Regions from separate parts of the Homo sapiens genome. Here region 2 is reported to be linked to region 1. Evidence: microRNA targets listed by miRTarBase, many of them from high-throughput screens and not tested one by one. Region 1 holds a microRNA gene; the other region holds the end of a gene's coding sequence.

Region 1 (4,396 bases):
CCAGCCTGACCAACATGGTGAAACCACGTCTCTACTAAAACTACAAAAATCAGGTGGGCGTGGTGGCACACACCTGTAATCCCAGCTACTCAGGAGGCTGAGGCAGGAGAATTGCTTGAACCTGGGAGGCAGAGGTTGCAGTGAGCCGAAATCACACCACTGCACTCCAGCCTGGGCAACAGAGCAAGACTCTGCCTCAAAAAAAAAAAAAAAAAAAAAAAAAAAAGGCTGTCTCTCTTACTTCGTAGTCATGCAGGTATGTTTCACTTTTTCCAGATTGGTACAACGGAGGAAAAGCAACACAGGAAATGAGGAAGAATAAAAAATGTTTATACAATGAAAAAAAGCAGAAGAAAACAAAACAAACAAAACCCAACAGTGAATGTGATGTAGTCTTGTAGGCTACTGTCCTAGTTCCTCTTGTTACCAACTTGCTGAGTAACTTTGTGCAAGTTACTTAGCTTCTCTGGGTTTCGGTTTCCTCTTTTGTAAATTAAGCAGTTTGGATGATATCATCTCCCAACTCCACCAGTACACACTTATTCTGAAGCTCATGATATACATCTATTATTTAAAATCCAGTGCTGTGAACTCTATTTCTTCAGTCAGATCACACTTGAGTATTGTGAGGCTAACATAAACCAAGTAACTTGCGTTTAATCATAGGATTAAAGCAATATACTACAACTTTTATTTGTCCTTTTGTAATTTTTCATTTTCAAACGCCCCTAGTGGCTAAACGATTTAGCCTGTTTAGGAAAAACCAGTTTCTCAACTCTGTGATGTGGCTTCTGATGTGAGGGAACTTGGAGCTAAATAAAATAAGTATGTGTCACTCAAACATTAACGATTTTCCATTAGCCCCACCACCCTTCATCCCTAAGGTTATTTGGAATGTGTTTCTTTAATGAGATAATCATTTGTTAATATAATCCCATCTAAGAAAATATAAATCAAAACCAGTGGATTTGAAATAGATTCAATATGAAAAACCAAATTAAATGACAACGGTTAAAATATCTACGGAGAACATTCTAAAACTCACAGAAACAAATGCCTAGGTCTGGGGCATCTGGCTTATTTTATAAAGTGAAGAACTTTGCTTGACTGGTGGGAAGCAGAGAGGGGAAAGATAATGTCCCAAGTAAAAAGGCTGACGTCCAGACAAGAAAACTAGAGTGGATAAATACGGGCACGCCCTACTCAAACCCAGGCCTTTCCTCTGGACCCTGTGATGCTTCTCAACACTGGCAACTTGTCAGTGTACCTCAGAGACTATTCTAGGCGGAGATTAAATTCGTCCTTGGCCCTTAATGTACTGGAAACAAGTTGGTCAGGCCAGGTGTCAGGCTGAGAAAGCACACAAGTCGTGGAGTTCCAGGTGTCGAGTTTGGCAAAGGTAAATGAAGCGCCTCGGCAAAGGCGCGGGAACTGTAGCGTGCGGTGTACCTCCTCCTTAGCAAAGCTTTCTCAATGCCTCTTAGGTTAGACCCGCCGCAGGGATGAAGGGGTTGCTGGCGGATTGCAGGTGCCTGCAGCACAGGGCCCAGAACTAAGAACCGACAACACAGATTCTTAAGCCCTGCTTGGAGCACTGCTCTGAGCTGGCATTAGAACCGAACCTAGCTGTACTAAGTATAAAGGCAAAGTAGTTATGACACTGTTGGCAGTGAAATTATACTTGGAACTCTTTCGCAGAAATCGCTAGGGCCTCCCTAGCTCTGGGCCCCTTCTCCTCCAGGCGCTCCAGTTTCATGGAAAGGCTTCCCTATGAAACTGAAAACGCGCTGGTAAGAAGGAGAAATGCGACCGGACTGCAATTCCCAGAAGCCGTCGCAGGCCCTCAGCATCCGGGACACTAGCAGCAAGGATCCCTGGGTATTGTGGTCCTGTGCTTTGCCAGCAACCCTCTGCCGACGGTAAAATTCCAGCCGGACATAGAACCACAACTCCCAGCAACCCCTGCTGCCGTGTGGGGGGTCTTCACGTTCTCGTGGCGCGGCGCAGGCGCACTGGGTCCTCGGCGCGGACCGCGCAGACTGAATAATAAAAGGGGAGCGGCGAAGAGGCAGGAAGACAAGACCATGTCGAAGGGCCCCGGGCCCGGCGGCTCCGCAGCTTCCTCGGCGCCCCCGGCCGCTACCGCTCAGGTGCTGCAGGCACAGCCCGAGAAACCGCAGCACTACACGTACGTAGAGCCCCCCCCCCCCCGCCGCGCGCGCACGCCTGACGTCAGCGGCCAGCGTGAGTCACGCGCGCAGGGAGAGCGCGAGGCGGCCTCTTCCTCCCCCCCTTCCTCCTCCGGCCCGGCCCAGACCGGTTCCAACCTGCTGGGGCCGGTCCCAACTGCCTCCAACTGCCACCAACCTCTGGTCGGGCTGTGGGGCGGGAAACTCGGTCCCGGCCGCCGAGTGGGGAAGGCGGGAGCTCGGGATGCAGAGTGCACTCTCCCTAGGCCAGGCCTTCGAGGCCTAACTGTTCCTCAGACCATAAAACCACAGTAGTAGGCTCCTTTGGGGCAGTGAGAAGTCCAAGACACAACCAAGAGGAGTTCCGTGGGGTCCAGCCCCAGAACCCACCTATGAATGATGATTAACGTGAAGTCCTGTCAGGAGATTCCGTGCAGTTTGCGCAGGAAGCCTTTTGTGTCCCTAAGGCTCGTAGGTTGTCCACGAGGGCCACACTTGCTTGAATTCACAGTCGACGTAGATAAACATGCAAAGATGGAAACGTGTCCGTGCGTGCCCATGACCGTTTCCCTCGCGGGCTGTGCGGAGCCTGAGTCTGGGAGCCCGAAGGTGATGGGTTCCAAGTATGTCTGCAGGCTCAGCAGAAATGTAGCATTAGAGGGAGCCCCAAATACTGACACTACAGGAGTCCAGCAGGATGGGAAAACCTCTTCCTGGAAGTCTTGCATCTGTGTGCTTTTAGGTCGCTGTCTTCATTTCCTTCAAGCCACGTTAAGCATTCCCTAGAGTTAGGTGATGTGGGAGAAAGATGAATAAGGGGCGGTTTCTCCTGTTAAGCAAAATGTTGCTTTCCATTTTCCCTGATGCTCTGTGAATGCCTCTCATCCCCATGGGCTCCTGAGTGATGTGCATGTTTAAAAGGATCCCCAGCTGCGAGAGGTTTTGGAACCTGGGGGGTTGAACAGCTCTTAAGTTGTTCAGTGAACGAAGAACAGAATCATCTGTTGGAGTAGAAAGAACTCAAACCAGTCAGGAGGAACTCTTGTTATAGAAGACCTTGGGAAACTGTTCTGGGGTTGGGGAACATTGGTTATAGGAAGTGTATGGTTTCTTTGTGGGATTCTTTGTTGTTGGCTGAAATCATTTAAGCTTCTTGACTACAGTCTGACTCACGTTAACCATTCCTTTTCTGATATGGACATTGCTTTCCTGGTCCTTTCTTACTGGAGATCTTTCGCAGTCTTTCCATTGATTTTGGTGAGATGTTCTTAGCTCAAAGACTACTGATGAGTTGAATGGTGTAGTCTTGATTTTCGAATCTGGAAACTTCACGTAATTGGAACTTCTTTATAATCTCTGGTTGCTCAGATCACTGTTTTTAGCAAAATAAACACATTTTGAGTCACGAGAGTCTTGGCTTCAGCAACTTGTGTTTCTGTGTTGTGTTGTCATTGAGCATACTATGGAATCTGTAATAGAAAGGCTTTCTTATTTTGGAATTGACAGGTGAAACAAGTGAACAGCTGATTAAATGTCAGTATCTGAGTCTTTGTCCTCTTGATGCTCATTTGTTTAAAACCTGTCTTTCCTGCCGGGCGTGGTAGCTCTCACGCCTGTAATCACAGCATTTTGGGAGGCCGAGGCGGATCGCATGAGGTCAGGAGTGAAGAGACCAGCCTGCCCAATATGGCAAAACCCCGTCTCTACTAAAAATACAAAAAATTAGCTGGGTGTGCTGGCGGGCGCCTGTAATCCCAGCTACTCAGGAGGCTGAGGCAGGAGAATCGCTTGAACCCGGGAGGCGGAGGTGGCAGTGAGCCGAGATCGTGCCACTGCACTCCAGCCTGAGCGACAAGAGCAAAACTCCGTCTCAAAAAACAGAAACAAAAACAAAAAAAAAGCCTGCCTTTCCATTCCTTGTGGGTAAGTATAGAGTAATGGGACCTGGCTCTTGAGGTGTCTTAGGAAATCAACAGGAGTAGGTGAAATAGCCAAGCTTGATGGGAGGTTGTAGGTGTTCTTATCTCTTTGTCTGTTCATATGTATGTGTGTTTTTATATTTGTATTTCCAAAAATCAGAGATAGAAATCAGTGGTCTTTCTTGCTAGACTTACTAGCATTCAGAAGCTGTGATGACCTGGAAAACTTCATCCCCTAGTCCTCCTAGGGCTGAGGTGCAGGGAGCATGAGGACACATATGATGGAAC
Region 2 (4,346 bases), not on the chromosome of region 1:
TCAGCCTCCTGAGTAGCTGGGACTACAGTCGCATGCTGCCACGCCTGGCTAGTTTTTTTTTTTTTTTTTTAGACGGAGTCTCGCCTATCTGCCAGGCTGGAGTGCAGTGGTGCAATCTCGGCTCACTGCAACCTCCGCTTCCTGGGTTCAAGCAATTCTTCTGCCTCAGTCTCCCCAGTAACTGGGACTACAGGCGCATACCACCACACCCTGCTAATTTTTGTATTTTTAGTAGAGATGGGGTTTCACCATATTGGCCAGGCTGGTCTCAAACTCCTGACCTTGTGATCCACCCACCTTGGCCTCCCAAAGTGCTGGGACTACAGGCGTGAGCCACCGTGCCCAGCCCTAGTTTTTGTATTTTTAGTGGAGATGGGGTTTCACCATGTTGGCCAGGCTGGCTCAAATTCCAGACCTGTAGTGACTTGTCCACCTCAGCCTCCCAGAGTGTTAGGATTACAGGCATGAGCCACCGCACCTGGCCTCTCTTCCTAGCTTTTTTATATTACTAGACTTAATGCCAGAGTTCTTTGCCAGGTCACCTTCCAAACCACTGCCAATTACATTACTTCTGAATCTCATTTCTTTGCAGAAGTAAAAAATAAACTTGCAAGATGGTTGTATGGATTAAATGAGATAATATATGTAAAACATTTGGCACAAGTGTTAGTTCCTTTTCTCAACATAATTTTTTCTCTTTATAGGGAGTCTGAAGATACAGTATTGCTCGTCCTCAAAGAGATCTACCAAACCCAGGGTATCTTCCTTGATCAGCCTTTACAGTAAAAATGACCCATCTATGGCTGCTTAATGTAAGTTTTAAAATGTCATATATATAGTGTAATTCTTACATATTAACATGTTATAATGAACTATGGAGCCTCAAGCTCTTTTTAAATATACTAGCTGTTGCCTGTCACCAAGATCTAGGCTGCTATTCATTTTTAGAGGGACTGGTAGAAATTCATGGGGAAAAAAACACAGTAGCCCATTTAGAGGAAGATTAGTGTATGTCTGTTTTGCTAGAGATTTTGTCCAATGACACCTGTCATTTTTTAGGATCTAAACTCAGAGTTTTAATGGTTCTGTTATCTAAGAGTTACTGTGGCAACAGTTATGATTTTAATTACCAACCACCCATCCTGAGATTTAAATTACTCAGCCTTTTAGATGTGAAATTACAAAGTCTGTGTATTCGACTCTGGCATTCTCTGTGGTTGCCTTCCAGTTGTGACTGCAGCTCTTCTCCCACTTTCTTCCCTAGACGGACATTGAGGGATCCTTCCCCAGAAAATCCACCTGTTTGTTGCTGCAATTTTCCTCTCCTCAGCTGCGTCATTTCCTGCATGTTGCCTGCCACTTACTCACCACTGGGGTCTTTGGAAGATAATCTTCCTCTTTGGAAATGAATGGAAAAGCAAAAGGCCCTATTACTTTTAACCACTGGCTTCATATAAACACTTGCCATTTTTTTCTGCATAGCTGGGGGTGGTTTGTGTCTTTAATTCTTTGATGATAGTTTATAGTTGCCACACTTTATTGATTAGTACTTGACAGGGTGTAAAGCCTATTTTGGGTTTGATTTGTTTTGGGTGGGGTAGACATGTTTTTAAGGAACTTATTGCTTATCTTTAGAAAATGTTCTAGTTTGGAAACAGATTCTTGAGATTCAGAAGGCATTTTGGAGTACACTTATCTCTTGTTTGTGTTGAACTGAAGGCTAAGTCTCAGTGGACATGGAAAAGACTTTTGGGTGATTTATTTTTGAACCTGCATTTCTTTCTTATGTGTAGTGTATGAAGAAAGACTAGAATGTAGCTTTAAAAAAGTGTTGTTTACTCTCTTAGAACTGACAGACTTATTGCCAGAAATCACTGATGTTCATTGTTTTTGCAACTGTTTGAGCTGCTGTAAGAGTCTAAAGTTGACAAGTTAGTTCATGTTAGGTGCATCTTTATAAAGCAAAGATGTTGTATATCCTAGGCCTCCCTTTTATATTTGATAGAAGTTATTTGCTAATAGCTTCTATTCTTACGTTGAAAATAGTTGTAAAAGCTGATGAACCTGAAATTGTGTAGCCTCTACAGGCTGCTGAGGTTCTAAATAAAACCTTTTAGTGGTGCCTTTATGGTGAAACAGAATTTGTCACCTGCCATTTCTACTTGAGCTAAGGTAGTATTGTGTATCCTCTTTCCTTCTTAGGTATCCATAATCCACAAAGCATATTTAAAAGGCTCTTGGCACGGGCAGCATTGGTTGAGCAGGTAGGTTTGGCTAGGGGGAAATGTTTAACTTGTTCTGAAAGAAAAACTTATGTCTGTAGGGTCCAAGAAACAGCTATTCCAGAGTCAGTGTCAGCTGAGTCTGGAACATATGAAGTGAGGTTTACTTCTAAGAACACAAGTGACTGCACACTAATTTTGTCAAGGCATCTTTTCACTACTTTGCTGTAGATTTTTCTTCTTCATTGGTCAGTTTGTCATTGTCTTTGTAGTTCTCTTTATGATAATCCTTTATACTTGCTCTCAGATTCCACAGGCCTCTGTTTATAGAGTGGCAAAGGCAGGCGAGCTGTGGTTTATTGTTTATAAATTTTTTTATAAATGTTATGGTATTCAAAGCCACTGACATTTAATATTTACTGAAGCCATTCCTTAGACAGCAGTGGTCTTTATCCCTTTCTGGAAAGAAAAGGAAAATGAAGGGTAATTACTGTCACCATGGAGATTGTAGAGGTAAGGTTGGGGTATAGGTCAGGCCTGGCCTTTCTTTGTCATCTGCTTATAGTCTAGTGCTAAGTATGCCACTAAGTTTCAGATATATGGAATACTTTATTTTTTTAAAGGTATATAAACTCTGAGTTATTGAGAATTAAGTATTCACTGTATATTAAGGGGAAGCTTTTGCCAAGTTGTGGTCTTCAAATTTATGTTTACTCTTCCTATTGGCAGAATAGGTGCTATTTAAGAGTAAACCAAAGGATAAGCAGAGGGAGTCCCTATAACCAAAGATGGACAGCATAGCCCTGGATAGCCAGATAAACCACTCTTTGTATTAAGAAATGTTTCTTTCCTAGTGGTGAGGGGTGGGTAACTGTGAAAGAGCTTTATATCTTGTCTATTCATGGTATTATAGCTGTATATTCCCAGGATGATAAGCTTGATTGAAATCCTGTATTTAGTCATATATTATTTGCGCTGCTTCATTTGTATCATGTGCAATCTCTAGACCAACCCTATTTTTAAACTCTGGTACAGCATCATTTTGTACATATTCCCAGCTGCAGAACTAGTATCACTTATCTCAGCAAAAGAGATTGTTTGCATGGAAAGATTAATAGCACTGATTAGATTTCTAATATTTTGCATTTTTGAAATGTTTGTTTTCTACGTGATTATATTTAAAACTTTAGTAAATACTAACATGAAACCATATTGACTAGTGGCCTACTTTTACCTGGACTCACCCGTCTCAAAGTCAAGAAAATCAGTACAGTCACGATTTTCTCTGTCTTTATGTATTACTAAAACAAAAAAATAGGTTTTGGGCAAAGAACTAATATGTAAGTTCTTTCCTGTTGACTGGTATTTTAATTGTCATAGGCAGAATTTAAGTTCAGAATTTAAAGCATGGCAATTATAAGAGACTTTCCTTTGGTATTTATAAATATTAGCCAGTACTATAGATAACAGCAGTTGAATCACTTAGGGCGGATGGGGAATTCAATGTTTTGCTTTACTAAAGTTCCAGCCCCTTAATGTACTTTAAATATTTAAAAAAGCACACATTTACCATTTTATTTGAATATCAGGTTTACTGAAGGAAAAAGATACATTGAAAATATAGGAACATACACATAAAAGACAATGTCATATTTAAAGTATAATCACAATAAAGAGAAAGGGAGCTGTAGGTCCTATGGCATCCATTCTGATGACATCCCATAATTGTTCCTTATATTCCATTGTGAAGAAGGGGCAGAAAAAGATTCATCTGTCCTTCAGATGACGATACCTGTCATTTTTCTTTTCTACCTTAGTCACTTGGCAGTGTTGGTGCATTTGAGCAGATCTTCAGTCATGAATGGAAGGAAAGAAGCTCACAAGTACAGTTATGGTCAAATGAGGTAGAAACAGTCATCTGTTAGTAGTGCTGAAACCACACTCCTGACCATTTTCTTCTTTATTATTGTTTTCACTTAGTAATTCAACAAATTGTTTATGCCCACGGTGTTCAAAATGCACAGCAGTACCAGATGGCTGGACTCAGATAAGATGCACACAAAAGTGATAAATTACCCTAGATTCGACATTTTCCTATTTAAGGCTTGATGGAATTGTCATCAG

Evidence for each region. Region 1 holds the annotated microRNA hsa-miR-4738-3p (UGAAACUGGAGCGCCUGGAGGA, at 1,734-1,755, opposite strand). A microRNA usually pairs through its seed, bases 2 to 8, with sites in the 3' UTR of a target mRNA and lowers its output. Matches are read on the target gene's strand: a 7mer-m8 pairs with bases 2 to 8, a 7mer-A1 pairs with bases 2 to 7 and ends in A, and an 8mer does both.
Region 2: the mRNA of DDHD2 is a reported target of hsa-miR-4738-3p. Seed matches in the 3' UTR shown: 7mer-A1 at 2,810-2,816.

Annotation. Positions count from the first base shown.
Region 1 is chr17:75,782,797-75,787,192 of GRCh38, forward strand. MIR4738 (microRNA 4738) reads right to left here and starts at 1,811; the gene lies at 1,725-1,811. UNK (unk zinc finger) reads left to right here and starts at 2,010. Exons shown (of 16, transcript NM_001080419.3): 1 at 2,010-2,188. The coding sequence starts at 2,085. RefSeq lists enhancers at 362-541, 2,104-2,682, 2,272-2,671, 2,683-3,260 and a silencer at 2,072-2,211.
Region 2 is chr8:38,259,336-38,263,681 of GRCh38, forward strand. DDHD2 (DDHD domain containing 2) reads left to right here. Exons shown (of 18, transcript NM_015214.3): 17 at 705-812; 18 at 1,265-3,501. The coding sequence ends at 786. PLPP5 (phospholipid phosphatase 5) reads right to left here. Exons shown (of 7, transcript NM_001102559.2): 7 at 3,795-4,346. Among named protein-coding and RNA genes, the nearest start is that of PLPP5, 7.7 kb to the right of the region's middle.